Regions from separate parts of the Homo sapiens genome. Here regions 1, 3 and 4 are each linked to region 2. Evidence: fine-mapped expression QTL. A gene starts in region 2. Each other region holds a variant in brackets. All regions are shown on one strand. Distances are from middle to middle.

What was found. PIP is the estimated chance that this variant, and not a neighbour inherited with it, causes the effect. A credible set is the group of variants that fine-mapping cannot tell apart.
Region 1: its variant is the best candidate, but not a certain one, in a credible set for the expression of SLC6A11 in unexposed skin (GTEx, PIP 0.81).
Region 3: its variant is the best candidate, but not a certain one, in a credible set for the expression of SLC6A11 in esophagus mucosa (GTEx, PIP 0.67).
Region 4: its variant is the best candidate, but not a certain one, in a credible set for the expression of SLC6A11 in uterus (GTEx, PIP 0.80).

Annotation. Positions count from the first base shown.
Region 1 is chr3:10,784,470-10,792,577 of GRCh38, forward strand. No RefSeq gene overlaps it. Among named protein-coding and RNA genes, the nearest start is that of LINC00606, 24 kb to the left of the region's middle. The variant C/T (reference allele first, on the strand shown) is at 4,512.
Region 2 is chr3:10,811,344-10,819,451 of GRCh38, forward strand. SLC6A11 (solute carrier family 6 member 11) reads left to right here and starts at 4,885. Exons shown (of 14, transcript NM_014229.3): 1 at 4,885-5,178. The coding sequence starts at 4,923.
Region 3 is chr3:10,921,848-10,929,955 of GRCh38, forward strand. SLC6A11 (solute carrier family 6 member 11) reads left to right here. Exons shown (of 14, transcript NM_014229.3): 9 at 4,157-4,269; 10 at 7,355-7,492. LOC105376950 (a long non-coding RNA gene) reads right to left here and starts at 6,878. Exons shown (of 3, transcript XR_940587.3): 1 at 5,010-6,878. The variant T/C (reference allele first, on the strand shown) is at 4,206.
Region 4 is chr3:10,867,986-10,876,093 of GRCh38, forward strand. It overlaps SLC6A11 (solute carrier family 6 member 11), which reads left to right. Exons shown (of 14, transcript NM_014229.3): 6 at 6,976-7,110. Among named protein-coding and RNA genes, the nearest start is that of SLC6A11, 56 kb to the left of the region's middle. The variant A/G (reference allele first, on the strand shown) is at 4,095.

The DNA.
Region 1 (8,108 bases), 27 kb before region 2:
GAAGTCACCTGCAGGCCCTAATACCTCAGTAGTGACCCAGGACCAATGAGTGGGTAAAATTGCTGCCCTGACATTTGCCCTGTTCCAGCCAAAGATGGCTCACTCCGTGACCCTGAGAACTTAGGACAGTCCCTGCTTCCTAAATGAGAGGGTTGCGCAGGCTGCTGGGCAGAGTGCCCTCTGTTAGGAGGTGAGTTTAGCTGAGGGACTCATGGCTTGGCCTGCACTTGTTTCTGAACCTGACCTTGCTAGCATCACCCTCAGATCCTAGAGAATTATTTTCTGACATGCACTATTTTAACAGCACCCAGGAAATTCTTGGCCTGAGTATTTGGGGTGATTGGCGGAAGTGATTTCTAGACTGGTTCTTTACCAACCAAAAGGTCAACTCTCCTGATCACTCCTGGTAGTGTGAACATGTACAACAGTTTTCCTTGGAAGTTGAGAGACTTCTAGCAACCTATATTTTCCATTCTATCTTAGCACAGAAGATAGGCTTAGCAAAGGAATGCCTCAGGCACTCTAAAATATATCCCCACCCTGCTGGAAACCAACAACAACCTTTAAGCATACGCTTAACAACAAGTGAAATGTTGTCACACACTCCTGTAATATTTTCCCCCAAAATGTTGAGATGACTTTTCTGGACTTGCCTATTGGCCACAGTTGTGTGTTGATAAGCTAGAGCAAGCTCTCTGGTTCAGGAAACTTAACAGGGAGCTGATGTTCATGCTATCATGCTGAAAGGGGCATGTTATGCCATCATCCCTTGAAAAACACAACTTGCTGAAACAAAAACAGAAATAGTGAATCTGAGCAGTCCTATATTCTTTTTCTTTTTTTATTTTAAAGACAACTCTTCCTACACTTTAGAAAATGCCAATCTTACATTGTCTTTTCCAGAAAACAAAGAGGGAACATTTCCTGCCTTTTTATTTTGAGACAAGCATACACCTGATACCCAAAACTGACAAAGATATTACCAGCAAAGACCATTATAGGCCAATATTTATCTTGAATACAGATGCAAAATCAGAAACAAAATATTAGCAAATTTATATACAGTGATATATATAAAAGGATAACAGCATAACTGAGTGAGGTTTAATTTAAAAATGCAAGAGCGACTTAACATTCAAATATCAATGTATTTTACCATACTAACAGAAAAAAATCTCAAGAGATTTAGAAAAAAAAGCCCTTGAGAAAATTAACACCTATTCATGATAAAAATCTCTCAGCATTAGGAATAGAAAGGAACTTCTTTAAACAGATAATGCATGTGTACAAGATATCCACACCTAACATGATGAAATGTTGCATTTAATAATGAAATATTGTACTTTTTCCCCTGTGGTTGGGAATAATGTAAGGATGTTCATAACCTTGCTCCCAACCTCAGGGCCAAAGCAAATAATTAGAATAAATAAGTGAAATTTTCAAGGTCACTAGATACAAAATCAATACAAAAAATTAATAAATGTAAAATAATTTAAATTATGTAAATCACATTCTTAAATCACAATGGAATTAAATTATAAATCAATATGGAAAGAATATGGAAAATTCCAAAATATTAAAATACTAAGCAACAAAGTTCTAATTAAGCTATGGGTCAAAGGAGAAATTACAAGGAAAATTAGAAAATATTTTGAACTGAATGAAAATAAAAACACAACATATCAAAATGTGTGAGTTGCAGCTAAAACAGTGCTTAAATAAAATTTTATACTAATAAATTTATACTAATGTGCTAATTTTATAATAAGTATAACATTTATACTTAAAAAAGAAGACAGGTTCTATGACCTAGCTTCTAGCTTAATAACCTAGAATAAGAACATAAATGCAAATAAAAAATAAACAGAAAAAAGATAAAGTTAAAAAGATCAACGAAATAGAAAACAGAAAAATAATAAATAATAAAGGCAATCAAAATCCCTTTTTAAGATCAACAAAAGTGATGAACCTCAAGCCAGATTAATCAAAAAAATTAAAGAAGAGAAGAGATAAATTAATACAGAAATGAGAGAGGGGACATCACTACAGATCCTATTGATAGTAAAGTTATTAGAGGAATATTATATACAATCATATACCAATACATTTAACAACTTAGATCAAGTGGAAAATTTCTTGAAAGACACAAATTACCAAAGCTTACTGAAGAATAAATTTATATCCTAAATAGCCCTGTGCCTATTAAATAACTTGAATTTGTAGTTAAAATCCTTCCCACAAAGAAAACTCCAGACCCAGATGGCTTTACTGGTAAATTCTATGAGGCATTTAAGAAAGATAATACCAATTCTATACAAACTCTTCCAGAAAATTGAATAGAAAGGATCACTTCCCAAAAAATTACATGAGGTCAGCATTAACTCAACAGCAAAATTGAAGACATTACAAGAAGAAAAAGAAGGAGGAGGAAGAGGAGAAAAACTACAGATTAGTATCTTTCATAAACATCCTTATAAAAGTATAAAATTTTAATAAATCATAACTATAATATATAAAAAGATTATGACCAAGTAAAGTTTATTCCAAGAATGTAAGGTTGGTTTTACAACTAAAAATAAATTAATTCACCATACTTAAAGACTAAAAGAGACCAAAAAAGAGTGCAAGCATATAATCATCTCAATAGATGCAAAAAATAAGAAATTAAAAAATTGACATAATTCAACAACCATTTATGACAGAAACTATGAATAGAAAGAAACTTCTTCAACTTGATAAAGATGATCTATAAAAACCTAGCTAACATCATCATACTTAGTGGCGAAAGACTAATTTCCCCACTAAGATCAGAACAGGGGCAAGGATGTGCAGTCCCTCTATTTCTATTCCACTTTATACTGGAAGTTCTAGCCAGTACAAAAAGGCAATAAAAAGAAACGTACAGTTTGAAAAGGAAGAAGTACAACTCTACTTATTTGCATGCCAACATTCTATCTTTGTAGAAAATCCTTAGGACTATACAAAAAAATACTAGAACTAATCAATGAGTTTAAAAAGATTACAGGATACAAAGCTAACATACAACAATTAATTATACTTTTATATACCAGCAAGAAACAATTTGGAATTGAAATTTTTTTTAAAAAACTTAACAATAACATCAAAAAATATGAAATACTTTGTGATAGATTTGAAAAAACTGATACACAAGTCGTGTACATCAAAAACTACAAAACACTGCTGAGACAAATTAAGTAGATGGAGAAATACATGATATTCATGAACTGGAAAACAAAATATTGTTAAGATGCCAATTCTTCCCAAATTGTTCTAAAGATATAATCTATCCCAGTCAAAACCCAAGAAGGATTTTTTTGGAGAAATTTGACAAATTTATTATAAAAGTCATATGGAAATCAGAGGACCTAGAATACCCAAAGTAATTTTGAAAAAGAATAAAGTTGGATGACTTAGCCTATCTGATTTCAAGACTTATTATGACTCACACTGTAATCGAGGCAGTGTGGTATTGGCAAAAGATACAACTTCAATGGAACAGAAGAGAAAAATCCAAAAATAGACCCTCAGATGTATGGTCAATTGATTTTCAATGAAGGTGCTAAGGAAGTTCAATGGGGGAAAGGATATCTTTTCAACATATAGTCCTTGAACAATTGAATATTCAAAAGCAAAAATTGAACCCATGTTCTTACCATATTACTCTATGTATAGGCATTAACTCAAAATGGATAATAGACTTATATGTAAAAGCTAAAACTATAAATCACTAGAAGAAACGGTGAAAGAAAACCTTAGTGACCTTGGATTTGGCAAAGATTTATTTAAAAGGACATAGAAGGCACACACTATAAAGGGGAAAAAATAGGCTAATTGGACTCTTTCAAAATTTAAAACTGTTGCTCCTCAATGGATACTATTAGAAAAATGAAAAGGCATGCTACAGACTGGGAGAAAATATTAGCAAAATATACATCCAACAAAGGACTTGCATCTACAACCCAATTAGAGATAGCCAAGAGGTTTGAATTGACACTTCACCAAAGATATTCTAGTAGCAAATAAGTGTATGAAAAGGTGCTCAACATCATTAGTCATTGGGGAAATGCAATTTCATACCACCATGAGATAGATATCACTATGCAGCCAATAGAATGACTAAAATTAAGACTGACCACTCCAAATGTTAGCAAGGATATGAGGCAACTGGAAATTTCACTCTGCTAGTGAGAGTGCAAAACGACATAGTCACTCTGGAAAAGAGATTGCAGTTTCTTAAACTGTTAAACATACCTCTATGACCCTAGTCATCTCATTCCTAGGTATTTTTACCCAAGACAAGAGAAATGAAAGTAAATATCCACTGTAAGTCTTATGCATGAATGTTCATAGCTGCTTTATTTTTAACAGCCCCAGTGTGGAAATAGTTAAAATGTTCATCAGCACATGAATGGATAAGTGAATTGTGTTATATCTGAACACTCAGCAACAACTATTGATACATGAAGCAACATAAGGGATAGGAGTGTGGA[C/T]AGCAAAGTGGCACAAGGAAACCTCTGGGGATGATGCACGTCTGCATTATCTTGATTGTGTGACGTTTCATAGTGTGTTATGTTCCTCGAAATTCCCCAGCTGTATACTTCAGTCATGTGCAGTTCTTTTGTACCTTAATTATACATTAATTAAGCTGTAAAAATTAATTGTATTCTATTTTACAGCTTAATTATACCTTAAGCTGTAAAAATTAATTGTATTCATCTGTATTTTTATATATTAAGCAACAAGCACTGGGAAGATGAAATTTTAAAAATACCATTTGTAAGAGCACCAAAAATGTCAAATACCTGAAAATAAATCGAATAAAAGATGTGCAATCCCTCTGCATTGAAAGTTAGAAAACATGACTGGGAGAAATTAAAGAGAACATACAAAAATGGAAAGATATTCCGTGTTAATGATAGGAAGACTCAATATTTTCAAGATGTCAATCATCCTCTGAGTGATCTACAGATTCAGCACAATTGCAATCAAAATCCCCAGTGGGTTGAAGGGGTGGAAATTGAGAAATTATTTTTAAAATGTATATGGAAATGCAAAATATCTAGGATAGTTAGGATAATGTTAAAGAATAAGACAAAGTTTGGTGGACTTATGTTACTAGATTTTAAGACCTAGTAAAAAAACTACAGTAGTTAAGACAGTGTGGTATTGGCACAAGAATGAACAAATAGACTGATGGAACAGAGGGTCTTGAAGAGAACCACATGTATATGGTTACACAAGTGTCACTGTAATTAAGTCAAGAAAGGATGTTTTTTCAATAAAGGCTGCTAGCGTAATTAGATATCCACATAGAAAAAAATAATCTTGCCTCCTAGCTCATAACATACACAAAAGTCAATTCCAGATGGTTCACATTCTAAATATGAAAGGCAAAACAATATAACTTTTAGAGGAAAACATAAGAGAAAATATATACACCCCTGAGTATGCAAAGATTTCTTAAACTGAAAAAAAGCACAAAACTTGAAAAAAATGATGAATTGCATTTCATTATAAGTAATTAAAATATTGGAAAGGAAAGACACACAGTGGGAGAAGATATTTGTGTTACATATATCCGATGAAACTCATACTCAGAATTTAATAAGAATTCGTATAAAAAGTAAATTTATTTATTTATTTATTTTTAGTATTTTTTTTTTTTTTTTTTTTGAGACAGAGTCTCGCTCTGTCGCCCAGGCTGGAGTGCAGTGGCGCGATCTCGGCTCACTGCAAGCTCCGCCTCCCGGGTTCACGCCATTCTCCTGCCTCACGCCATTCTCCTGCCTCAGCCTCCCAAGTAGCTGGGACTACAGGCACCTGCCACCATGCCCGGCTAATTTTTTGTATTTTTAGTAGAGACGGGGTTTCACCGTGTTAGCCAGGATGGTCTTGATCTCCTGACCTTGTGATCCGCCTGCCTCGGCCTCCTAAAGTGCTGGGATTACAGGCATGAGCCACCGCGCCCAGCCAAAAAGTAAATTTAAAAGGCAAACATCGAGACCATCCTGGCTAACACGGTGAAACCCCATCTCTACTAAAAATGCAAAAAATTAGCCGGGCGTTGTGGCCGGTGCCTGTAGTCCCAGCTGCTTGGGAGGCTGAGGCAGGAGAATGGCATGAACCTGGGAGGTGGAGCTTGCAGTGAGCCGAGATCACGCCACTGCACTCCAGCCTGGGGGACAGAGAGAGACTCTGTCTCAAAAAAAAAAAAAAGGCAAACAGCCCAATGGAAAAATGGACAGGCAACCTCAACAAGCATTCCACAAAGGGTAATATCTAAATGGTCAATAGACATATGAAATGTGCTAAATGTCATTACCCTCAGATAAATATAAAAAGGTAAATTAAAAACCCAAAACAATACTGTTACACACCCAGGAGAATGACTAAAATGGAAAAGGCAGACAACACCAAGTGTTGACAAGAACAAGGAGCAAATGGAACTCTCCTACATTACTGTTAGGTGTTGACATATAACCATTGTGAAAACTCTAGCAGAATTGACTAAACTGAGCATACATATACTCCATGATTTAACATTTCTGCTTCTTGGGTATATACCCAACAGAAATGTGTGCATGCGTTCACTGAAAGACACATAGAAATATTCACAGTAGCACTTGCACTATCAGCCAAAACCAGAAATGATTCAAATGGCCATCAAACTACAGAATAAATAAATGGCAGTATCTTCACGTCATGGAAACAAACAAAACCATAACTACGTGGAGGAAGCTCAACCATGTGGTTATAATGTTGAGAAAAAGAGCCAGATACCAAAGAGTACATATGGTAGGATTCCATTTACATAAAGCTCATACCCAGGGAAGAGTAATCTACAATGTTGGAACTCAAGGTAGTAGCCACTCTCAGGAGCGGTAGTGACTGAGAGGATATGTGAAGGGGGCTCCGGGTGCTGGCCCTGCTCCATGACTTAATCTGGGTTCTGGTTATGAAGGTGTGTTCACCCTGTGAAAATTCACCCAGCTGTACCACTGTGATCCTACACTTTTCTTATATATGTATGTCACACTTAAAAAACAAAAAGATTGGCTTGGCTTACTGTGGAAAGTGCTGTGATGGAAAACAACAGAGTGCTGGAGAGAGAATCTGGCTGGGTTGGTCAGTCAGGGAGGGCTCCTTGGAGGAAGGGATGTTTGGCTGAGAGCTGGAGAGTGAGGAGGAGCCTGCTATGAGAAAAGCAACGGGGAAGAGCTTCCAAGGCAGTGGGGAACAGATGGACAAAGGCAGGAAGGCTGGGATGTGAGTGAAGCAATGATGTGCAGGAAGCTGGCTTGTGCCATCAGTGAGAGCCAGTTCTGAGCATCTGGCGCCAACTGTGTTCAGTGAGGTCACCATGGTGGCTTGGAATATGCAAATAATGTGGGAAATCAGCAAATTCTATCAATCTGGATTTTTTTTTTCTCAGAAAACCACCAGCTGTACAGCAATGACCATAGCTTGGCAGACCTGCCGTGATTGGTCATTTGACTGTCTTTAAAATTCACTCTGTTACATCCTTGGCTTTCTTCTCTCTCCTGCTAGAAAAAAAAAAAAGTTTCTTTGGATGCAACCAAAGAGAACCTCTGGCATCGGCCTGTCCGTTATTTACCCTTAGTTGTTAATTCTTTTTCTTTTGTGTAAAATTAAAGTCGGCAAACTGCAGCCCTTGTGTCAAATTTGGTCCTTGGCCTGCTTTTGTAAAGAGTTTTGTTTGTTTTTCATATTGTCTATGGTTGCTTTTGCATTACAACAGTGGAGCTGAGTTGCTGCCACAGAAATCTTATGGATGGCAAAGCCTAAAATATTTGCTATTGGTCCTTTAAGGAAACCATTTGCCCACCCCTGTAGCTTGGCAATAGTCATCCAATCCCATGCACCCTTGTGGCCAGTATTTTCTGCACCCACGTCAAACACCCAGTGCAGCATGCTGCTAGTGCATTCCCTTCCAGAGGTACACCCTACCAATCCCCTGCTGGTTAAATGTTTAACTTTTGGGCTGTCTCTGCTTAACAGCCACCAATGATGGGGACCTTCTCCCCAGCCAGAGGTGACGGATCTATTTCCCAGAACCCACCTCCTCA
Region 2 (8,108 bases):
GTACGTCGCCCAGCACCTCTAACTTTCATTTCTGTGATGGCTTGGTTAACTTCTACCTCTGCCGCCATCCTGCAATGGGGCTTGCACACTGGCTGGGGTGCATAGGGCTGATCTGTGGCACTTGCAAATTCCCACAGTGTAAATACAACCACCGTGGAAGATTTCAAGACACCAACAATGGCGCCATGCAAAATCCCTGAAAACGCAATAATCAGCTGTCATGAGCTAGTCTGAGCCAGCTCTAGCATACCATTGAGGTGGGCCTTATACTTGGTATTGCTCCCTAGTGACTGATATTGCATCTGGAAAATAATTAAAGAGCCAAAGCAAGGCCGGGCATGGTAGATCACGCCTGTAATTCCAGCACTTTGGGAGGCCAAGGCAGGCAGATCACTTGAGGTCAGGAGTTTGAGACCAGCCTGGCCAACATGGTAAAACCCCATCTTTACTGAAAATCCAAAAAAAAAAAAAAAAAAAAAAAAAAAAAAAAAAAAAAAAAAAAAAGAACCAAAGCATTTGGTGAATGAATGAATGAATGAGCAATGCTGAAGTTTAAATGAGCCTCAGGACAGCAGCTGCTGTTTCCAGAAGATGGAAGACATTGAGTGCTTGCCCCAAGAAAGGAATAAGGGAGTTATGACATTTCTGTCCCCTGAAGACTGCTTATAACAAACATGTCTATATCAGGCACAAATCCAAGTGCTTTACAAATACTAACCCACTTAATCCTCATGACAACTAAAAGGTAGATACTACTACTACCCTGATTTTACAGATAAGGAAATGAAAACTCAGAGACATGAAGTCATTTTCCAAGGTCATTTGGAGTTGGCTTTGAAACCAGGCAGTGTGACTGCAGAACCAACATTCTTACCCACTGTGCTCTGTTGCATCAGGGCCAGCCCTGGGGATAAGATGTGTGTCCCATTTGTGTCCCAATCCCTGTATATCGACCCCACAGACAGTGTGTGCTCTTCAGCCCACTGTCCCTCAACAAAGAAATGATGAAGTGGCAAAGGTCTAGAGATGAGGTCCTGCAATGATGAAGTGGATGTGGGCTCTTCTGGATAAGGACAGAGTAAAAAGATCAAGGCTTTTTAAGGGCCATAAAATAACCAAGGAGATGGACTTTAAATATTTACTTACTAAATTCAAATAGGAAATTGACCTGGCTAACTTTTACAAAGGGAACCATTCAAACCTGAGAGGTGAGTTTGCAACATCAGTATTTGTACAACGTTCTTCCCTGAGTGTGATCTCATTTTGCCTTGATGACCACCCTGGAACATGGGAATAATTGTGCTCATTTGAGTGAAACGAGGACACCAGAGCTTAGAGATTGGGCGATGTATCCAACACCACAGAACCATCCATCAGCAGAACTGGGCCTGGGTCCCAGACCAGATGATGGCCAGCTTCAGCCCTCTCATGCTGGTTCAGTGTTACTTCCCAAGCAGGTCTGGTAGAATCACAGCTGCTCAGAGGAAGTCAATTCCTGGAGCTAATTATGCTGAGCACCAGCACAAAGCGAAAATGTAATTAGTTTCAAAGGAGCTTTGCACAGATTCTGGAGTGACAGCCTAATATTGCAATAGTAAGATTCAGGAATATGTCTAACTTTTTTTTTTTTTTTGAGACGGAGTCTCGCTCTGTAGCCCAGGCTGGAGTGCAGTGGCATGATCTCGGCTCACTGCAAGCTCTGCCTCCTGGGTTCACGCCATTCTCCTGCCTCAGCCTCCCAAGTAGCTGGGACTACAGGTGCCTGCCACCACGCCCAGCTAATTTTTTATATTTTTAGTAGAGATGGGGTTTCACCGTGTTAGCCAGGATGGTCTTGATCTCCTGACCTCGTGATCCGCCTGCCTTGGCCTCCCAAAGTGCTGGGATTACAGGCGTGAGCCACCATGCCTGGCCAGGAATATGTCTAACTTTTGATGTACTTGTTCGTTTAACAAATAGACTCCTAGCTACTTATGTGCCTACTCTGTGTAAGATCATTGAGGTCAAAGAAAAATTCCTTCCTTTATTGCCCATTCTATACACAGCATTGAGGATCATCAAAAAGAAAATAAAAATAACGAAGTCTTAGTGTGGGAGAAAAATGGCATTCAAAAATGGTAGAAGGAAAGGCTGGGACAATTTGATTGAGGGGGAATTTTGAATATTAGGGCCAGGAATTTGGTTTTATCCTGTAGGAAAAGGAAGTCCAATGAAGGTTTTTTTGTTTGTTTTTGCAGTCAAGGTCTTGTGCCATAGTCCAGATTGGAATGCAGTGACATGATCATGGCTCACTGCAGCTTAGAACTCCTGGGGGAGTTCAAGCTTATACCATCCTCCTGCCTCAGCCTCCTGAGTAGTTGGGACTGTAGGTGTGCACTACCACGTCTGGCTAAGTATTTTTTTTTTTTTAATTTTAAAGATAGGGTCTTGCTATGTTGGCCTCCCATTAGGGCTTTTAAGCAAGGGAATGAACTAACCATCCTCCTCCTCCTCACAATAAAAACAATAGCTACTGGCCAGGTTGTTGGCCTCCCATTAGGGCTTTTAAGCAAGGGAATGAACTAACCATCCTCCTCCTCCTCACAATAAAAACAATAGCTACTGGCCAGGTGTGGTGGCTCACGCTTGTAATCCTAGCACTTTGGGAAGCTGAGGCGGGCAGATCACCTGAGGTCAGGAGTTCAAGACCAGCCTGGCCAACATGGTGAAACCCCATCTCTACTAAAAATACAAAAATTAGCTGGGTGTGGTGGTGGGCACCTGTAATCCCAGCTACTCGGGAGGCTGAGGCTGGAGAATCGCTTGAACCTGGGAGGTGGAGGTTGCAGTGAGCCAAGATTGTGCCATTGCACCTCCAGCCTGGGTGACAGAGTGAGACTCCATCTTTTAAAAAATAATAATAAACAACAATAATAGCTACTGTTCACAGAGCTCCTACTGAGGCTTTTAACCCACACACCCACCCTGTGAGGTCAGAACTCATGTGAAGCCCACTTAACAGGTGAGAAGCATGAGGCAAAGAGGTAACAGAGCACCTAAGGGGCAGAGCTTGAATGCAAAGCCACATCCATCTGAATTCAGTATAGTCTCACCCTGAACACCGCAGGATCTTTGCTTTTAAACATAACCTAGGCAGCACATGGGGACAGAGGTTTGGGAGGCACCCACATTTAGTTCAGTGGTTCAAGATATGAGAAAGGCTGAATTTAAGGAGAGAGAAAGGAGAACCAGAGAAGCAGGGAGAGAAATGGTAGCTGCGCCAGGCAATGCCAAGAAAACCACACCAGTGGGAATTTTAAGAAGCAAAGGAGGGAGCAATGGTGCAGAAAGTTACCTAGAGGCCAGGCAGGATAGGGATGGAAAAGGAACCGTAGAATTTGCCAAATTGAGAGGGCGTCCGGGACTTCACAGCATTTTCAGAGGAGTGGTGGGGGTGGGTGCCAGATTGCTGTGGGCCAAGGAACGTGTGGGAGGTAAAGACAGGGCTGGCAGCCTGTCAACTTACTCTTTCAAGAAATATGATAGTGGGGGGAGGGGAAACGGGAAGATGGTGGAAGGAAGGGCTTTCTGGGGAGATGGAGGTTGGGAGCGACTTGAGCAGTTGTGAGCCAGAATGAAAGGAGAAGCGGAAGGCAGGAGTTTGAAGGCTTCAAAGCAAGGAGCCTGTCCCTAAGAGAGCTCCAGAGGGAGCTCCGAGGGACAGATGGAGAGTAGGGTTGGTGGGGGCTCAATGTGGCTGGACTTTTCCAGGCCTGTGCAATGGAAGAGGTGGAAGTGTTCATCTCTGTGGCCCCCAGCAGCTTAATAGTCTTTCCTTCTTCCCCTTTTCCTCTTCCTACCTTCCTCCCTTCCTCTCTAGCCACAAACATTTATTGAGCACATACTATGCACCAAGTCTTGTGCTAGGTTATGTTGCTATTATAATGAACAGGACAGTGTATATCATCCTTACAACTAAGTGAGGAGACAAATATTATACAAGAAGATGGACAAATGTGTGTAGGTCTACATATTGTATAATACTAACAATGGGTAATGTTCATTGGGCACTTTCAAGGTATCAAGACCTTTATAAGCATTTCTTAATAACCTTTTACCTAAAAATCCATCCCCTACATTAAAACTTACAAGATACTACTGATATTACCTTTTGCAGATCAGGAAACTGAGGCACAGAGGGATCAGATGACTGGCCAAAATCACACAACTTAGATTCACCTGTTTCCAGACGCAAGCACTTAACTGCCACACGGTCCTGACTATGTTGAGAGCTGCGGACACCAGTATGAACAAGACCTGCAGAGTGTCTAGGGCTGGGAAGAAGCCACGAATTCATTTACTGCCTTTTCCTCAAGGTGTGGTCCCTGGACCAGACATATCAGCGTCCCTGGGGAGGTAGTCAGACACGCAGGCTCTTCAGCCTACTGCGACCTACTAGACCGTGATGTGTAGTTTAAACAAGACCCGCAGGTGTCTGGTGTGTAGTTCAAGTTGGAGAAGTCTGGTCTAGAGCCCATTCCTCTTATTAGAAACAGGAAACCGAGGCCCAAGCATTTGAAGGTTATGGACGGTGGTAGAACTTTGGGGTTTGGTGAGTGGAGCCGGCCTAGGCCGGAATGGGCGCTTCCACTCTTGGCCCAGCAGGCCAGTGGGCAGGGCCGCGGGAAGGACGGGCGCTGCAGGGGCTCCGCGCGCTCAAGGTGCTCGCGGGCTCCCGGGCCCAGCCGGGCTGAGGTGGCGTGGGCGCCCTGCGGGCCGGGCCTCCGCGGCGCGTCCCAGTCCCAGTCTCCGCGCTGGTCTGGCCCGGTCCCTCAGCTCCACCCCCTGCCTCCCCCTCCCGCCCGCTCGCGCCTCCTGAAAAGCCAGCTCGCCCGGGGCGGCGGCGCAGAGCCGGGCCGGCGCACGAGGCAGCCAGCGCGGCCATGACGGCGGAGAAGGCGCTGCCCCTGGGCAATGGGAAGGCTGCTGAGGAGGCGCGGGAGTCCGAGGCGCCGGGTGGCGGCTGCAGCAGCGGGGGCGCGGCGCCCGCGCGCCACCCGCGCGTCAAGCGCGACAAGGCGGTCCACGAGCGCGGCCACTGGAACAACAAGGTGGAGTTCGTGCTGAGCGTGGCCGGGGAGATCATTGGGCTGGGCAACGTGTGGCGCTTCCCCTACCTGTGCTACAAGAACGGAGGAGGTGAGGTGATAGTGAGGAGAAGGGGAGGGGGCGCCAACCGCCCGGTGGGGGCGGGGAGCCAGGGGCGAGCGCGAGACCCCCTCCCGCGCCTGCGTGGAGCGGAACCCGAGCGGAGAACCTCGACTCCAGGCACCTCGCGTGTGAGCTCGCCCCGGAGCGCGGCCCACCTGTGCCAGTGCGCACGCGCACGTGCCAATTCGCACCTGAGGGTTCCACCTGCCAGCGCGGGGACTTGCCCGCGTTCTGTCCCCAGCATGAGATGCAGACCGAGGCCAGGGAGCCCTTGCTTTGGGTAGGCGCCCTGGTGTTTCGGGCACTTGGCCCCTTGGAGCCTCAGCTTTCCTAACTGGGAAAACGGCCTGTGGGGAAGGGACTCCTGATGATCAAAGTGGTCTCAGTTTTTGCGCGCTTACTGAAGTGCCGAGCACCTTTGACCATATCATCTCATCTCATCCTCTCAGTCACTTTCGTAGGCAGGGGTCTACCCATTTTGCAGGTGAGGACACTGAGGGTCAGAGAAGTCTCACTCGACCAAAAATAAAGATGAGATTCTGATGTCAAAGGCCCTATTTTAAACTGGGACTGGACTCACAACAGGGAGAACTTTTAGGCGAGGCATTGCTCTATGGTTTCCTGCCTAGTCTTTCGTCTGCTCTTAAGCCCATTTCTAGGGCCAATATTTGGGGCCCCTCTGGTGGAAGAATTGACAACGAACAGTTTATTTTACGGGTCTGAGAGTCACCCACGACAAACAGCAATACTGGTTTAATGTTGATGCTCTGCATAGAGATGTAGAAGGGGAGAGGGAAAGGACAGTGATGAGAGAGTCCTTTCTGGTGACAGCCTCTCAAAGTCAGTTTGGCAAAAGATGCAGCAGCGAATCCGTAACTCTCCCAGCTCAGGGAAGGGGCTCCAGCCTTCAGGACCCCCTCCTGTCATATCGGCAGGACAGCTGGGCGGGTCCATGGCAAGGGATCTTATAAAACCTCCTTCGGTGGCACAATTTCTCGAAGGAAGAGCCTGTATCTGTATATTCTCTCTTCTCTTTGCTGTGCCCCTGCCCCTCCAGCAAATTCCCAAACCCCAGCGAAGGTGGCTCAGAAGTTGGCTGGCAGGGACCGGGCTATGAGTCTGTGCAGAGCAGGACTTCCTGTGCGAGCAGCTGCCGGGAGAGGGAGAAGGGTACTGCTTGGCCCAGGCCCTTTCTTTGGGGACATTCATCCTGAAGGCACAGGCTGCTCCAAGCCTGCTCTGCACTGGTAATGAAGTGGCCGCTGGTGTTGGCGGCTTGGCAAGGGAGAGAGAGGGAGTGGACTTGGAGACCCCCAACGTGCCCTGTGCTCTCGGCTGTGAATCCTGCCTCTCTGCAGATACAGCGTTTGTAAGCTGCGTCCACTTGGAAACCTGTGCACACCTAGGGTAGTCCCCAGGCACAAATTGTTTTAACATCTTTTTTTTCCATACAGGAAATTGTTGTGCCAAAACAAAAAGCATTCATAAAAGCAGAAAACACGGTAAATTGGGTTAATTACAAATTCTGTCACAGATTTTTTTTTTTTTTTTTAAAAAAAAAGGTTGTAGTGAGTAAAGTTTTTTAAATGAGTCATTTTTTTTTTCTGACTAGCCAAGAGTTTTCTTGAGATTCATAGATCTCCTGGTTTGGTAGAGTTTATTGTCCTAAGGGTTAGTAGCTTTGTGAATACACAGGTCAAAAGGCTTTCTGAAAGTGTCATACGTTAGATTCTAGAGGTTTCACAGGTAAATAACAGCATGTTAGGGGACCTGCTGCAGCTGATTTTAATCACTTAGATTTCGATTCAGTAAACAGATCCTCTTATCTCCTTTTCCACACTTTTTGCTTTCTAATGTAGTTGGGATATCTGCTTCTCAACTGTTTACCTTTTTAAAAACATCCTTACTGCCCTCCTTTGAGATCCCAACAATAAAGTATTTCTTTCCCAATATGAAACTTTAAATTAGCTGCTTGCCCAGAAAAGCTAAGACCCTTTCAAACCCTGATAGATATGATCCTGCTATCAGGATTCATCAAAATTGTTGCTATTAATCCTTACGGTTAAGGAGACTTCATTTGGCAAAAAGCACTTTCAGTTAAAGCCGTCATTTGTGAGATCAGATGGTGGCAAATAGCATGTGTTTTCATGCTTCGTTATTAGACAGGAGGGACAGAATGAGGGATTTGGAAAAATCCCCATTCTGGGTGTAATAGTTCATGCTCACCTCAGTTATTTAATTTTTTTCACAGAAAGGCCCAGGAAATGGGTATTGTGTTTCAAGACAGGAACACTAATGCTTAGTGGTGGTCTTTTCCTGGACCAATTCAAAGCCAGCCTTTGCTAGATAGATTCTTGTTGCAAACTCCTTGCAAGTTGACACCACACCTGGGCCTCATGTGTAGGGGTACTTAATTCTTTGAGGCTTAATATTGTTCATTGTATAATTCCCTGAGAATGCTCTTCTTTATGACAAAGATTGTTTGCAAGTCACTTCCAAAGTAAAAGGAAGGGGTGCCCCTCACCTGGTCTGTTGAGGTCACTTTAAAATGAAAAAGGGTGCAACATTCAGGGAGGGAATGAATTTGACCCACGCTGGAGGATGAAATGTAAAAAATTTTTTTTAAATGAGCCAATGAAACAATTTCTTTTACATTATCATCTTAGCTGCATTACAGTTCTATGAGGGAAGCAGTGCAGATATTAAAAACTAAAGCTCCATTTTACAGATGGAGAAGTTGAGACTTGGAGATGTGAGGTAGACTTACAGAAACCTAGCGCTGTTTTCTGACTCTGGTCTTCATAATGGGAACTTGAACTCAAGTTCAAAGAACATCATGTCTGGCCTGTAGTAGATGTTTATTAAAGAGTTCTTGAGCCAAGTATGAATCGGCAGGGACAGTTTTCATTTCATTCCTT
Region 3 (8,108 bases), 110 kb after region 2:
AACTTCAAGTCAAAAAATATTAGCAGAGATAAAGAGGAACACCTCATATTGATAAAAGGGGCAATTCATTGAGAAGACATAACAATCCTAATGAGTTTGTACCTGAAAGCAGAGATTTGTTATATAGGGAGCTAAAACTGATAGAACTGGAGGGGAAAACAGACAAATCCACAAGCATAGTTGGAGATTTTAACACCCCTCTTTAACTAATGATAGAACAATTATATGAAATGTCAATAAAGACATAGAGATCTGAACAATACTATCAACCACAATGACTTCATTGATATTTATCAAACAGTGCACTCAGTGCCTGCAGAGCACAATTCTTTTCCAGTGGACATGGAACATTCACCAAGATAGACCATATACTATGCCATAAAACAAGCATCAATGTATTTCATGAAATTGAGACCCATTAATATAATGCACCATGTTAATAGATCTAACAAAAAAACATAAGATTAGCTTCATCAATGCTTAAAAAGCCTTTAACAAGATTTGACACCCATTTACAATATAAAATAATCAAGAAAATAGAAATTGAGGAGTACTTTTTGAAATGGTGTGTGTGTGTAAAAGTTTTTAAAAAGCAGATATCTATAGTATCCTACCCATTATGTGAAAAAAGAAGGGGAGAAGAGAAAATATGTCTACTCATTTGTGCAAAAGAAATACAGAAAGGATTAACTAGAAACAAACAAGGATGGTTACCTTCAGGGGTGGTCGGAAAAGGGGTGGAAAGAAGGGAGGAATGGGAATGAGGGAGGAAGAATGAGAAGGAAGCAGTGCTTCCCTGAATATATCATTTTTTTTATTAGCTCTGAGTCTTGGTAATGTTTCACATACCACTCAAACAATGATTTTTTTGTGGTGGAACCCTAAATGGAATACAAACAGTAACAAATGAACCTAACTGTACTACAAATGAAAACTGTCACCATGCTAAAGGGAATGGGGAAGGAAAAACTAACCTATGTAACTTTGAGAAACAGCATCTTGACTGGATATTTTAAGGCTAAAGACAAAAATAACGATACTGTGCTCCAGTTAGTACAGGGGTAGCAATTCCACAACTGTTGTAAGTGTGTATATTAGGATTGAACAAATAGGTAAATATTTTATAGATAATTAGTCAGATTTTTCACTGAGAAAGAAGTTATAAATAAGGAAAGGAGAGATGCTAGAATGTCTTTTATTGGAATTGGAAGTATCAATATATTAAAATTCATGGTTTTCATCTATGTACAGATAGATATAGAAATATTCATGTGTATATGCATGGATAAATATACATATATTTCCTATCTTTGTGTGCTGAGAGGGCCTAAAAGCAATAATACTCCACAGTTATGAGCACACCTAGGGCTCAGATCTTGGTTTCTAAACACTATTCTTCAATTAAAAAAAAAAAAAACACAGGGCTCCTTGGCAAAACAGTTGATTTCCGGGCTAGGGCAAGACAAGGTGAAGCTAGAACATTTTTGTGATGCCAAAAAATAAGGAAGTGCTCAGAAAGAAAGGTTTGAGGCTTGTCAAAAAGCCATGGAAATCAACCTGAAGGAACTCCCAATGGTTAAAACTGAAATAACTTGAACAGCAAAATAAATGATAGTATTGGATTTTAACCCATAGAATAAACTACTCAGGAGTCCACATTCACATATATAAATAATTGAATAAATAAATGGTGTGAAAGGACAGCTATTCCTTGGAGAAGAATTATAATTAATAAATATAGAAGGAATGAGGGAAATATCAAATCACCATTAGGCAAACACCATTGTAATCATGGTTGCAGGCAAGACCCACCAATGGATACTAAAATCAGTAGGTAAAAGTTGGAGTAGAAACAGGATTTTTTCATAATCTCAAAATATTTCCTCCTGCAGGAGCGTTAACAATTACAAAGAGAAAAAGAGTAATGTTATAGTGGAGAAACCTAGCAGACAACAGTTTAACCTTAACCTTAAGTGATCAAGGTAAACATCACCAGTAATAATATTGATTGACATGTACCCCCGATATAATACACCAGAAAGGATATAACATCACTGCTGTGGTTTTCTAGCCAAAAGATGCACAACCTCACCATAAGTCATGAGGAAACATCAGACCAACCCACATCAAGAGACATTCTGCAAAACAACAACCAGAACTCATCAAAAATGTTGAGTTTAGCAAAGACCAAAAAAAGACTAAGGGACTGCCACAGACTGGAGAAGACTAAAGAGATACAACCAATAAACGCAATGTGGAGTTCTGAATTAAATGTTGGAACAGAAAAAAAGGGGGCAAAAGGAGAAAAACTGGCAGAATATGAATAAGCTCTGTGGCGTAATTAATGGTATTATACCAATATTAATTTACCAGTTATTAAATATTGAAAGTGTTCCCCTAAAATCAGAAACAAAGCAAGGATGTATGCTGTCTCTGCCTCTATACCATATGGCAATGAAGTTCCTAGAGAGTGCAATAAGGCAAGAACAAGAAAAATAATTAGAGGGAAGAATAAAAATTTTCTTGATAAACATACTGACCGAGTCAAAAATCCTAAGGAACCTACAAAAAAAGTAATAAGTGAACTTAGAGAGGTCAAAGGACAAAATAGATAAAATATATTATACTTCTTTACATGCTAGCAGGAGACAATTGGAAAGTTTTTAACTTCTGCTCTTCACAAGACGCCATTAAGAAAATGGAAAGGCAAGCCACAGACTGGGAGAAAATATTTGTAATAACTCCTCTGACAAAGGATTTACATCCTAAACATATAAAGAACGCTCACAATCAAATAAAAAGAAAACAACCTAATGAAAAAAAAAGGACCAAAAAATCAAGCCATCACTTCACAAAAGAAGACATATGAATAGACAATAAACATGTGAAGATACTCGATGTCATTAACTATCAGGGAAATGCAAATGAAAACTATGATATAACATCTCACTCCCACTGTAATGACACATCTTAAAAGACTGACAATATCAAGTGTTGACAAGGATGTGGAGCCACTGGAAATTGGAAACATTGCTGGTAGGACTGTAAAATGGCAAAGCTACTTTGAAAATCAGTTTGGAATTTCTTAGAACGTTAAACATATGATTGCCATATGACCCAGCAATTCCACTTCTAGGTAGAATAGGCAAAACTAGTCCGAGGACGAAAAAAAATTGAATTGATGGTTGCCCAACGTGAAGAGGAGGAACGGAGGCGAAGAGACAGCAAGGGGCCTCAAGGGGCCAATGGCAGTGTTCTATAGCTTGATTGCCATGGCTTGATTGTCGTGGTGGTTATCTGGGTGTATACACTTTTTAAAACTTCATCAAACTATGTATGTAAATTATACCTTAATGAAGCTGCTCTTTAAAGTAAAAAATCATCAGATTTCATGTCTATTAAGCATTTACCTGCTTCAGTGCTTTCCATTTATTGTGTCATCTCACTGAATTCTCAAAACCACTTTTTTTAGATAGGACTTTATTATCCCCATATTTCAGCTAAGAAAACAGATTTGAGCCCAGGCCACCTGGCTACAGAGCCTGTGCTGTTGACCACTGTGCCACAGGGCTAGCCTCTCAGGTATCTGTCTGCTGACATTGATAAAGTTCATCCCGAGGACACGTTAACCCAGCCTTCTATGTGCAGCAACTAAAACAAGGGAGTGTAGACCTGGAAATGAGAGTGGAAACCAGAGGAAGAGGCTGCCAGGGTGGAAGAGCATTTCTCCAGCCTGGACCCGACCTACGTACACCACAACCACTGGGTACCTGGTCCTTGCCTCCCCCTGGGCAGACAGAGTCAGAATCGCTGGGTAGGCCTGAGAATCTGCATTTTAACAAGAAACTGCACCTTCCCCCTTGAGAACAGTAGAGACATGTCCAGAGGAAGGTCCATGGATCAGCTGAACCTAGGCTTGAATCCTGACCCTTCCAAGGCCCTTGTTTACCTCTTTCTGCCTCAACTTGCTCATCTGCAAAATGGGCATCAGAATAGCACCAAACGCATGGGGTGGCTGGGAAACAGAAGTGATTTGAGTGAGAGGCAGGCACAGTGCCTGGCGCAGAGGAGGCACTCAGTAAATGCTGGATTAAAATAGCAATGATATGAGGGATGGGACTCCACCCAGTGGCTTTCTCTCTCTCCCTCGCTCCAGGCCCCGGCCTGGCCTTTATTGCGTACCCCAAGGCGGTCACCATGATGCC[T/C]CTCTCCCCGCTGTGGGCCACCTTGTTCTTCATGATGCTCATCTTCCTGGGCCTGGACAGCCAGGTAAGGGGCCATGGGGATGGGGAGCCCAGGAGGGAGGGGAGCCTGGGCCAGGAGGCCAGACGCCACCCTTAGGAGTGGCTCCCCAGGCCCAGCCACTCCCACCTGGCCCTGGCATCAGGGCCCTGCCCACCGTCCCCCATTCCACCCTCCACTTCCCTCCCAGCAACTCTTGCACCCCCGCCATCCACCAGGTGGGCTCTACACTTACCCACAAATGTCTGTTCCGGCCCCTCTAAGCCTTCCCAAACACTGTTTTCCTTACCGGAATTCCCAACTCTCAATTCACATTTAGAAAAATTTGCTAAATACTTCCCTTCTGCTCAACCACTCCTGCCAACAGCACTGCCTGGCACAGCAGAAGAGAGTCTCAGAGAGTGAGTTCCACAGCATGCATGTCCCCATCCCAACCCAATCATTGAGGACACGGACACATAGAAAAGCACCTCCTCTTCCTCCATCTCTGTCCTGGATGCCACCACCAGCTCTGCCCCGCCACCGCCTGCCTGTCTCTGTGCTCGGCCCTCCCTAGAGGCCCCTTGCCAACCTCCCCCTGCTTGGCAGCCTCCTTCCCTGGCGAAGGGGGTAGACCTGGAGCTAGTAACTCACCCATGCACTCGGTTTCCCTTTGTTGCCACACAGCACGCAGGCGCTCGCTTCCCGCACTGAGCACACTCCAGACTCCCATCCCAGGTCCCCGGCCTCTTTCCCAGACCATTCCCCCAACAGTCCCTGAAACCCACCCTTTGCCTGCTGGTCCTCACAGCTGTTTTCCCTAGGAGCCCTGGAGAACTTCCCCCAGCCACAGCCTCCCCGCCTCGGAGACTGGGGTCTCTTGGCCAACCAGTGCTGTGCTGTGCAGGGGCCTCTGCAGGCAAAGCAGTCAGACCCCCAGGGAGACACACCCAGCCCAGCCTGTGGGAGTGCCGCCCTCACCCATGACCTTCTGCCAGTTGAGTCACTTGGCACCCAAGCCCCACAGCCAGTATATCTGTCAAGCCAGCCAAGTCCAATTCAATTTCTTCCTCTGATCGGTTTCCCAGAAGCTGCTAAGCCAAATCACCGGGTGTTTCTGCTGATAATCTTCCCTTATTGTTGCTGTTGCGGGCAGAGGTCTCGGAGGGATTGGCAGCTTATGCGTGACAGGCCAGGCCTGCCTGGCAGAGGGAGGCAGGGGCTGGGGCCCCGGCTCGGCGAGTCCCTGGGCTGAGCTAAACCAGCAGTTGGGCCTGGGGGCCCGAGGTCTGGCACAAAAAGTGGCGGCCACTCTGCCTATCCCCATGCGTGCTGCCCTTGCTGTGTGCCTTGGATATATTCTCAGTTCATTGTCACAATAACCACACGGGCTGGGGGCTCCTTTCATTGTCTGCATTTTATAGAAGAAGAAACTGAGGTTCAGAGATACTGAGTGACTTGCTCGGTCGTGTACCCGGGCCCGTCTGCCTCTTGGCCTACACACTGCAGTGTCTCATCAGTTTCAATCCTGGATAAACAACCTCCTTTGCATCCCATCCTCTTCCCTAGGACCTGGAGAAAGGATAGACAGAGCCAGCCCTTGCTGCTGAGGCGGAGCAGCTGCGAGGCCATAGCCTGGGCTTGAGTCCCAGCCCCATGACTTGCCAGCTGTGTGCCTTGGGCTAGTCACCTCGCCTCTCTGTGCCTCATTCCCTTTGTCTGCACAAGGAGTATTGAAACACCTTTTCTGGGGAGGCAGAGGTGAATCAGAAAGGATTTGGAGCCGACAAATAGCTCCAGGGAAGGGGTGCTTCCCAAAAAGGTGGCTGGCAAAATAACCCTTAACTCCTCCTCCCTCCCTCAAGGCAGGGCAGTGGGGTGGGTAAAGCCCAGCTCTGGAGCAAGATCACCTCGTTCAAATCCAGGCTTTGCCACTTATCGCCTGGGTGACCTTGGGTAAATTGCTTACTCCCTCCTCTGTGCTTCTGTGTCTTCATTTACAAAATGGGAATAATAATAGTACAGACCATGTAGAGACTACATAAGTTAATGTATGCCAACTGCCTAAAACAGCCTGGCACATCGCAGGTATGATATGTTTGCTATTATTCGTGTTATTATTATTAATTTAGCAAACATTTCCTGAGCCTCTCCCTCCTCTGTGCCAGGGGCCCTGAGCTAGACACAGGAAATAGACAGATGACAATGATGTGGCCCCTTCCCTCCAGGATCCCACCTGCTTGTAAGGAGACAGATATAAGCAGGAAAGGGCCCCCAGGGTGAGGGGTGTGCTCAGGGCGCAGAGGAGAGGGATGGGCTGTCCTGAGTGGGGGACAAGAGTGATCAGGAAAAGGTTCATGCAGATCTGCCCCCAGTGCCATAAGAACCAGGTGAGGGGGTGGTCGGTATCTTAGGATATTCAGGCTGGCTGTTAATGGGTGGGTAGGAACTGGGCAGATACCTTGTACCTGGCCCTGTGCTTAGCACACGGGATACAGATGCTTAGTGGCTCAGACTCAGCCACTGATGCCTGCATCGTTTGGCTGGGGCCCAAAGACACCCAGCAGAGACAAAGAGCTGGAAGTTGGCTCACCTCTGATTGCCCTCCACCAGCAGAGGGGCCTCATCTGCCAGAAAGAAAGGGCAGGGAAGCGTCCCAACCCCGGAGACCACAGAGACAGACCAGAGCCTGCCATCAGCAGAGCACGTAACTCCCACTACAGGCACAGAAATCCCAGCCTTGCCTCAAGGGCAGGGGCTGGTCTCATTTAAGTTGTCGACCCCAGCACAGAGCCCAGCATGTAGGCATGTGACAGGCAGCATGCGGGAGAAGGAGGAGTACTAGATTTGGAGTCTGGAGACACCAGCTCAAGTCCTGACTGCCACGTCCTTGCTGAATAATCCTGGGCAGGTCACTCCCCACCTCTGAGCCTCAGCGTCGTCATCTGTTAAATGGGCATGACTGGAGCTCCGCTAGTGCTGGGATGACTGTTATCCTCAGGCCCCTCGTCTGCATTAATGGGTGTGGGAATGAAGGAAGCCCAGGGTTCAGGCCTGCTGCGCTTGCCCAGAGCCTGGGCCACCAGGAGCAGCCTTGTCCTTGAGTTTCACACCATCATATCTCCCCATCCAGTTTGTGTGTGTGGAAAGCCTGGTGACCGCCGTGGTGGACATGTACCCCAAGGTTTTCCGGAGGGGTTACCGGCGGGAGCTGCTCATCCTAGCCTTGTCTGTTATCTCCTATTTTCTGGGCCTCGTGATGTTAACAGAGGTGAGTGGCATGGTTCGGGCCGCACGGGGTGAAGTGGGTGTGTGACGTCAACTCCCAGCTCTAAAAGTGACCAGCTGTGTGACCCGGGTCAGGTCTAGTGCCCTCTGCCACTCGGTTTATGCTTCCTCCTAGCGGGTCATGGTGAGGATCTAATGGAAGTTCTCATCAGGCCCTCAGCACAGTGTCTTCATGTGCAAGTGCTCAGCTAAAGGCCGCGGCTGTTATTCACAGAGGGGAGTCACACTCACCAGGGGAACGCTGGGTTGATCTGTCATGGTGAGCACATGGACTCCTGGGCCATCCCTAAGAATAACTTCTGGGTGAAGCAACAACGTCAGCTACTGGCCCCTACAGCATTTACCTATGAGTGGTCTCACGTTCAAAGCAGGCTTTTCTGGGCATCTCTGAGAAGAGGCTCCCATGATGATATTGGCACCTTTGGGCACCATGTGCACCAGCCTGGGACTTCTATGCGTGCCCCTCTTCTCATTGTCCCTGCTGGGCTTGCAGGTTAGGAGAGGTTCTCCATGACCTCCAAATTAAGACCATCTGATAAAACCATATTTTTCTCCCCCACCTCCCATAGCCATCCTGTCAAATAAATACCTTCTTATGT
Region 4 (8,108 bases), 57 kb after region 2:
ATTATGTATATTTGTTTAATATAAAAGAGTGTACTAATATATAGATAATATTAAGTAAATAATACAAAGGTGCTATGTGTATATGGCCAAAAAATACTGGGAAGATGCTATGAATGATTGAAGTTTGGATTAGTCTATCCTTGCCTCTTCGTAGATGGTAAATGCCAGCCCAGAGAGGGTATGGAACTGGCCCCAGCTGCCCAGCACATTGGATCTTCTGATTTTGTGGTCCTAGGTTCTTGCCCCACACTGCCCTGCTTTTTTGGATGCCTTTTGAACAAGACTTGGCTTTCCAATTGACTCCATTATCCTGGAAATCTTAGGGTGGGGTGGCCCTTCTACAATGTTTGTGGCATTCCAAATGATCAGACAATCTCCTTGCTCTGAAATAAATGGCCGTGTCCTGGGCGTAGGGGGAAAACCACCCCACAATCCCAGTATTGGGATGTAAATGAGCAATTAGCGTCAATTAAAACAGGATACAGTATAATTACCACCAATTGTGCTAACCTTTATATTCAGAAAGCCTTGACCTGTGAAAAGGGAATTAAACAATAGTGAAAACTCTTAACCAAGGGGTGTGTTTTGGGCAGTGATGCCTCCTTTCATGGACTGAGGGTTCTGACAGATTAGACCCTCCTTTCTCCACGCCCACCCTTCTGGGTCTGGGCCACTACTGGCAGTGGCCAGGAACAGCCAGGCTTGATGGTACCTTGTCAGAGACCTTATTAGGCCCATCACCAAATGCTGCATAGTTCAGCATAATGCCTGAACCCTGCTGTGGCCTCTTGCCTCTTCCAGACAAATTCTAGGGCCTCAGACATCTTGAAAGGGACACTTTGTTAGGAAGCACCTTGCACCTGAACTGTCCTGCCCTCTGTATATGACCTGGTCTGTCTTTTAAAGCCAAATCCTTTGTGATGTCCTTGTTTATAAATATGCCTCTGAAAATCTGATTCAATTTTCTGAATCCCCTTTTATGTGGACCCAGCATCACATATGGATGCAGCACAAAGCAGTGTTCCTAATGACCTGCATTGTAACCTCAGAGTTCCAGATCTCAGCCTGCTTCTTTATTCCTCTGTCCAACAAATATGTATTGAGCACACCTTATGTGCTATATACACTGTCCTGGGTGCTGTGGATGCAGCAGGGAAAATAAAAGACCAAACCCTTATATTGTAAAAATCTTAAACTTACAAGGCAAGAAAATTGCTGATGGAGAGCAGCTTTAGGTGCTGGGAGGATGCGGGAATGACAGGGGTGATGAATGTGGGATGGGGCTCAGGGAGGACGGGGCAATTCATCCTCTCAGCAACATCTGGGCAGACAGTGTGGTTTATGAGGCTAAGAGGGTGGCTTCTGTAGCGAGACAGACATTTTAAATGGACCACTCTGAGCCTCGTCTTCCAGACCTTTAAGATAGAAAGGACAATGAGTTCTCAACTGGAGGGCAGGGCCCTGACTTGGAGGAATCCTCTGCCTGTGGGGACTCAGACACACACAGGACAAACGTCTTGGGTGGCCGAGGAGCTGGGGATGGACTCTGTGGACAAAGAGAGACTGAGAAAAGGCAAGGAGGCCTAAGAGGCCTGGCACGTTCCCCAATAGCAGGGAACCTGGTAGTCTGGGGAAGGGTGGAGACTGGCCAAGTCACACGGCAAGCCCAGGCAGAGCCAGGACTGGACCAGCGTTATCCGACTCTAAGCCCAACCCTTTCATCATATCCCACAACCTTGAATGCGAGGCTGAGGAGGTTAGACTCAGGAACAGGGAAGAGACATGCAGGATTATTATTTTTGTAACTGCAGCTGCAGTATGGACAGTATAGGCTGTCAGTGACCAAGAAGAAAGGTGATGAATGGCACCAGCAATGGCGGTAAAAAGGGGGTGTAACTTCAGAAGGTAGTTGGAGATCTAGTTGGCAAGACTTGATCACTGATTGAATGTGGGGGAAGCTGAGAAGAGAGGTGAACCTAACTCTGAGCATACCTGAGTGACAACCTGGAGGTTCCTGAATATATGAGGGGGCAGACAATACCCTCTGCCTATTTCTGCGTCCTTGGCTAGTTCCACATCTTCCCTGCCTGATCCAACCTCTCCTATTCCTGCTTATCTTTGGGGACCAAGCTCCAGCCCATGTTCACAGACAGGAGAAGGCTGGATCCCTTCCCGGAGACCCTGGAAGCACCTTCCCAACCTGTCTCCATAGCCTCCTTTTCTTGTGTGACCCTCATTGTGTGGTGTCATGATCCCAGGAGTTTCATTCCTAGATGCTCATGTGCATAAATTCCTTCCTCAAGGACTAGACCTAGGTCTTACCATTCTGTTGACCTGCAGGAGAGTCTGAGAAAGCATAAATGAAACATGGACTAGACCAAGGGTAGCAGATAGAGGGGTTTCATCCCAGCTGATTATGGCTGGCTGCCTGGAGTGCTGTGCGGAGGGTTCTGAGGCTGCATCCAAGCTTAGCTGCAAAGAATGCTGTGATCTATTAGTGATGTCTGGCAAGGCACAAGAGGGAAGAGTGGCAGTATGTGTGTCACTTATGTGCAGTCTCTTGATGACAAGAATCTGTATGGTTTTGACAATGCACAGCTGTTCTCAGGAAAAGTGAAAGATGATGTCCAAGTGTCTGGCATGGCCAAGGGTAGAAACAGATTAGAAGTAGCTTTTACAGAGCCACTTTTTAAAGTGGCTTTAAAAGAGCTATAGACACAGGCTATCCTCAGCATTGAATTTCAACCTTCATACCAATCTCCACTTGTGTGCCTTACATAATGATGCCTCTAAGCCACCTTTTGTACCCTGACTCAAGGCTCTCAAACCTCAGCTTACAAATGATTTTTTCTGGGCTAATGCCTGCCAGCCAGTGGTTTCATTTTGGCAGCCTAACTCTTTGTCTGCACTGTGGTCTTTGGGCAATTCATTTGAATATTTTATTTCCCTTGATTTCTTTTCCCTTGGTTTATGGTTTTATAAAAGAAGTATAAAAATGAAGGTGTGAATAGCAGTGGAGGGAATGTAGTTCTCCTAAATATAATGTAGAAGTAGAGCATCGATTCAGAACTCTAAACAATGGAATTGCTTCAAAATTATCATCAGCCACATAATAAACCATGTCACTGTAGTAACTGAGGAGCAGTCTTCTGTACATGGTGCCTGGGAACTGTGAGGCTACATTTGGCCAGGTTTTAAGTGACCCTCTTAATGACACCCCACTGGCTCAGTCTACCCAGTGGAAACTGGACATAGCATAACCAGCAAGCATAATCACATCAAAGTGGCCCCACAGGTGAAGGACAAATTTTTATGATTTTTGAGTTGTTCTTATGTTTTACATGGTAAGGTTCTTTTCCTTAAATTTTGCAAGCATTGGGAATTAAGATAGCTGAGTTCCAAATATTATGTATCTGGAACACTTCAGCTCCTGGACATTCTGGATAATTAATCTTCTGCCACACAACAGAGACAAAAGTGGAAATTACTAAATGAAAGCAATGGGTTATTAGCCTCAACCTGATGTTTTATAGACTTAAGCTGATTGGCTTTGGTTGGGGGGGAGGGGGTGATTTTGAAGGAAATGAATCAAGAATGTATATGAAATGCCGAAGATCTATCATAGATGCTGTGTATAAAGCTAAGTGAAACTGGAGATTTTATAGCACTTTTAGCTCTCTGCAGAAACCATCAAGCCTTATTGATTACTGGCCTCTTATTTTTATTAATATTAATATTGATTTCTGCTCTTTTATATTTGATCTGCACCTTTTCTGGATTACATTGCATATGATAGCAAGAGATTGTGTTGATTACTTGACATGTCGATTGAGCTGATGGTTGATTTGGAAACAGGGATGCAGAAATTGGTGGTGCAGGGGCCATGAGTGGGCTGGGGAGGTTACCATCATTGCAGAACAGAGACATTGTCTGAATAAAATAGTCCAGCCTTTCAGGTTATGTCCACAGGACCCACTATCACCAACCTTTGCTGGTTCTAATTTCCTATTTTTGAGGACTGGGTTTAAAATCTCTGCTTTGTCATTTACAAATGGAATGACTTGACTCTTCTGAAAATCTCATCTCTAAAATGG[A/G]AAAATAACACAGAGTCTGCATGGCTGTCGTGAGGGTTGCAGATTGCATACATAGGTAGCCTGGTGGTTGAATGTGTGACCCTGGAGTCAGGCAGGACTTGCTATGACCCCCATGTCTGGTTGTCGTTCATTCACTGGGCAATCCTGGGCAAGTTATGAGTAACTTCTCTGGCCTTTGTCATGTGTAAAAAGAAGATAATCATGCCTACTCATTCTTGTTGAATGTTTCATGTGTGGAAGTGCTAAGTAAATGCAGCCATTGTTATTATCATGTGTAAAGGGCTGGGCATGGAGTGAGGATGTCTTTTTCCCGTCTTCCTTCCATCCCCATTTTCCAAGTAATGAATTCCTTATCATCCTTTATGGGCTGACACTTCTTTGGAGAAGCCCTTCTGGACTGCTCTTGCAGTGAGGGACTCACTCTGTCTGTGCTCTTCCATTCTTTTTGCTCCCCTGATGACATGAGGCATGACCTCCTGTCTATAAGTCTTTCTTTACTACCAACTGGAAGTCGCTTGAAGCAGAAATTTCCCTCCTGTGATTCAGTCTTATTTTTACCTTCCAGGACCTAGCTCAGTTCTTAGTACATGAGAGTGTTTGAGTGAGTGAGTGAGTAGGTGAATGAACTGAGTCAATAAAGGAATACATGAATGAACAAATGGGTGGAGGACTGAAGCACTGGTCAAAGAAACCCTGGGTTGAACAGGAGCGAGAGGCTAACTTAGAAAGCTGGAAGTCTCAGGGCATAGACTCTTTATCTGGGAAATTGGAGTCTCTGAACCAAAGCTTGCATGCGTATCTGCATCTGAGCACATTTGGAGGGAAGGTCCTCAGATTCTCAGAAGTGTCCCTGGACCCCAAATGTTGACAAGTTGCTGATCTGAACAGACGGAGGAGGCAGGCCCCACTGAGAGGACAGAACCAAGTGATTGGAGGAGTGAGTGTGACAAAAGAGAAAAGTCAGAACTTGCAGGACACTGACTCCTGCAGGGACCTCAGTTAAGGGGTGTGGCCGGTGCCACAAGCAGCCCCTGGGACGGGAACTCCTACAGTCCCTGCGGGCCTTGATGCCTCCTTCTAGGCCGCTCTTGTGCGAGGAAGCTCAGAGGAGGTTTGTGTCTTTCACTGTCTTGATTCTTATCCAGAATCTGCTAGCTAAAAGGGTCTCTCGGGTTCATTGGGTCCAATCGCCTGCCTCCAAATGGACCAAGCCCAAATGGTTCCAGGCAGGCACTGAGTTTTTTCTGCCCCCAAAGATTTCTGCCCTTTTCTTCCTTTCCCTCCCCTATGCTCACCTTCATTATTGTATCCTATCCTATGCTATCCTATCCTATCCTATCCTATCCTATCCTATCCTATCCTATCCTATCCTATGGCATGCTATCCTACCCTACCCTACCATACCCTACCCTATGCTATCCTATCCTATCCTATGCCATGCCATCCTATCCTGTCCTATCCTATCCTATCCTACCCTACCCTACCCTACCCTACCCTACCCTACGCTATCCTATCCTATCCTATCCTATGCCATGCTATCCTATCCTATCCTGTCCTGTCCTGTCCTGTCCATCTATCCCGTCCTATCCTATCCTATCCTATCCCGTCCCATCCTATCCTATCCTATCCTATCCTATCCTATCCTATCCTATCCCGTCCCGTCCCATGCTATCCTGTCCTGTCCTGTCCTGTCCTGTCCTGTCCTATCCTATCCTATCCTATCCTATGCTATCCTATCCTATCCTATCCTATAGTATGCTCTGCTCTGCTATGCTATGCTACCCTATCCTATGCTATGTTATCCTATGCTACTCTATGCTATCCTATGCTATGCTATGCTACACTATCCTATGTTATGCTATGCTATCCTATGCTATGCTACGCTATGCTATGCTACGCTACGCTACGCTACGCTATGCTATGCTATGCTATGCTATACCATCCTATCCTATCCTACGTTAGTCTAGCCTATACTATCCTGTGCTATCCTAGTCTCTCTTTAACTATGCATACTTAACTTTCAGTAAGAGCTGTGGCTTTAAAAATGTGGGTATTGACCCAACAGTGAATTCTAAAGTGGATTTAGAAGATCATGGCCAGCTTATTTAAAAAAAGAATACAATAGAAAATATTAGCATGTATCACACATGTGTTATGTTGTGAAACTTCTTTTTCAGCTCTATGTGTGCTGGATTGTGATGTATATTTCTTTCTGTGTTGTGGTCAAAAAAATTCAACAAGCACCACTCTCAAGCACATCACGGGCACTCAGTAGACAGCACTGAGAGACCTAGCCTGTGATGAGGTATGAGGCAGGAGGACAGGCCGTGTTAGGGGTTACTTCTTGTTGCTGCACCAGGAAGCCCTTCTTTCCTTTACCCCCTCTGTGGCCCACTCCTATCACCCCTGCTTCCTTTTCCTTTTTAATTTTATTTATTGTGGTAAGAACACTTAACATGAGATCTGCCCTCTTAACATATTTGTAAGTATCCAATGCATTGTTGTTGACTGTAGGTGCAATACTGTCCAGCAGGTCTCTAGAGCTGATACATCTCACTACTGAAACTGTATACCTCCTGATTAGTGATGCCCCATTTCCCCCCTCCCAGTTCCCCACAACTGCCATCCCACTCTTTGATTCTATGAATTTGACTCTTTTAGGTACCTCACATGAGTGGAGTCATGCAGTATTTGTCCTTCTGTGATTGGCTTGTACAGATGAATGGATCAAGCAAATGTGGTCTATACACGCGGGGGAATGCTGGTCAGCCTTGGGAGAGAGGGTCCTGGTGCAACATGCACCCAAAGGACATTGTGCTGAGTGAAGTAACCCCATTGCTCTCACCCCCTTCTTGATTCTGTCCTCTCCTCTTGTGCACAGGTTGTATACGTGACTGCGACATTCCCCTACATCATGCTGCTGATCCTCCTGATACGAGGGGTCACGTTGCCCGGGGCCTCAGAGGGCATCAAGTTCTACTTGTACCCTGACCTCTCCCGGCTCTCCGACCCCCAGGTAAGAGTCGCTTGCTCAATGTGCAGCATCACCCACCACCACTGGGAAGCCTTCTGCAGAGCCCCTGCCACTGGCCACTGAGATTCAACAGCTGGTTGAACAGTGGAAAGCCTGTGGACTCTTTCCCAGAATAATTTTAAATGCATAAATTTAATACGTAGGAAATCAAATATTTTGAAATACCGTTACCAAAACATTTTAAAAAGGCAAATTTGTGACATGGTAATAGATGCACATTTTAAAACGAGGACATTACATAGCCAGATCCAGCAGCAAGTCTGATGACTACTGTGATTTTAAAGCAGCAATGAGCATAAGTGACATTTCAAGATAGCTACACCATGATATGAAAATATCTTCTATTGCTAACAGGACTGCAGTTCATTGCCTGCATCTAAAATTGAAACAAATACTAAATTTCAGTTAGAAGTTAATTAAAAATTAAAAAAAAATTACTGCCCCAAATCACAGATCTCTGCAGTAGTGCATCTTGGTGAGAGAAACTGGGTCTTTGTTCATGATTGATTTTCTTTGTGGGAGTAGCTCGTAGTAAAAAAAGAGTTGGAGAAACTGGCTAAGCTATCAGTTGTCTTTGGTAAGGCATTGGTTGTTCTGAATGGTGGGCAGTAATTGTGCCTAAGGTTCTCTTAGTGGGTACATGGTGGTGTGCCCTGGAATACGTTAAACAGATAAAAACAGAACATCTCACAAGCCTGGTGGTTCTCAACCTCAGCTACACGTCAGAAACTCTTGGGGAGCTTTTGAAAACCCTAATTCCCAGAGCATAACCCAGACCAATTAAAATGAACTCTCTGGGTGTGGGTTGCAGGTGTCAGTATCTTTTAAAGGACTCTAGGTCATTCTAGTGTGTGAAATAACTTAATCAAAGACATTTGAGCAGGCAAGCAGGCACTCATTTTTCTGTTAAAACACAGAACACATGGAATCAGTACAGTTTCCAAATAGGAAATGAGGCTTGCAAGAAGTTTCAAGTCTGC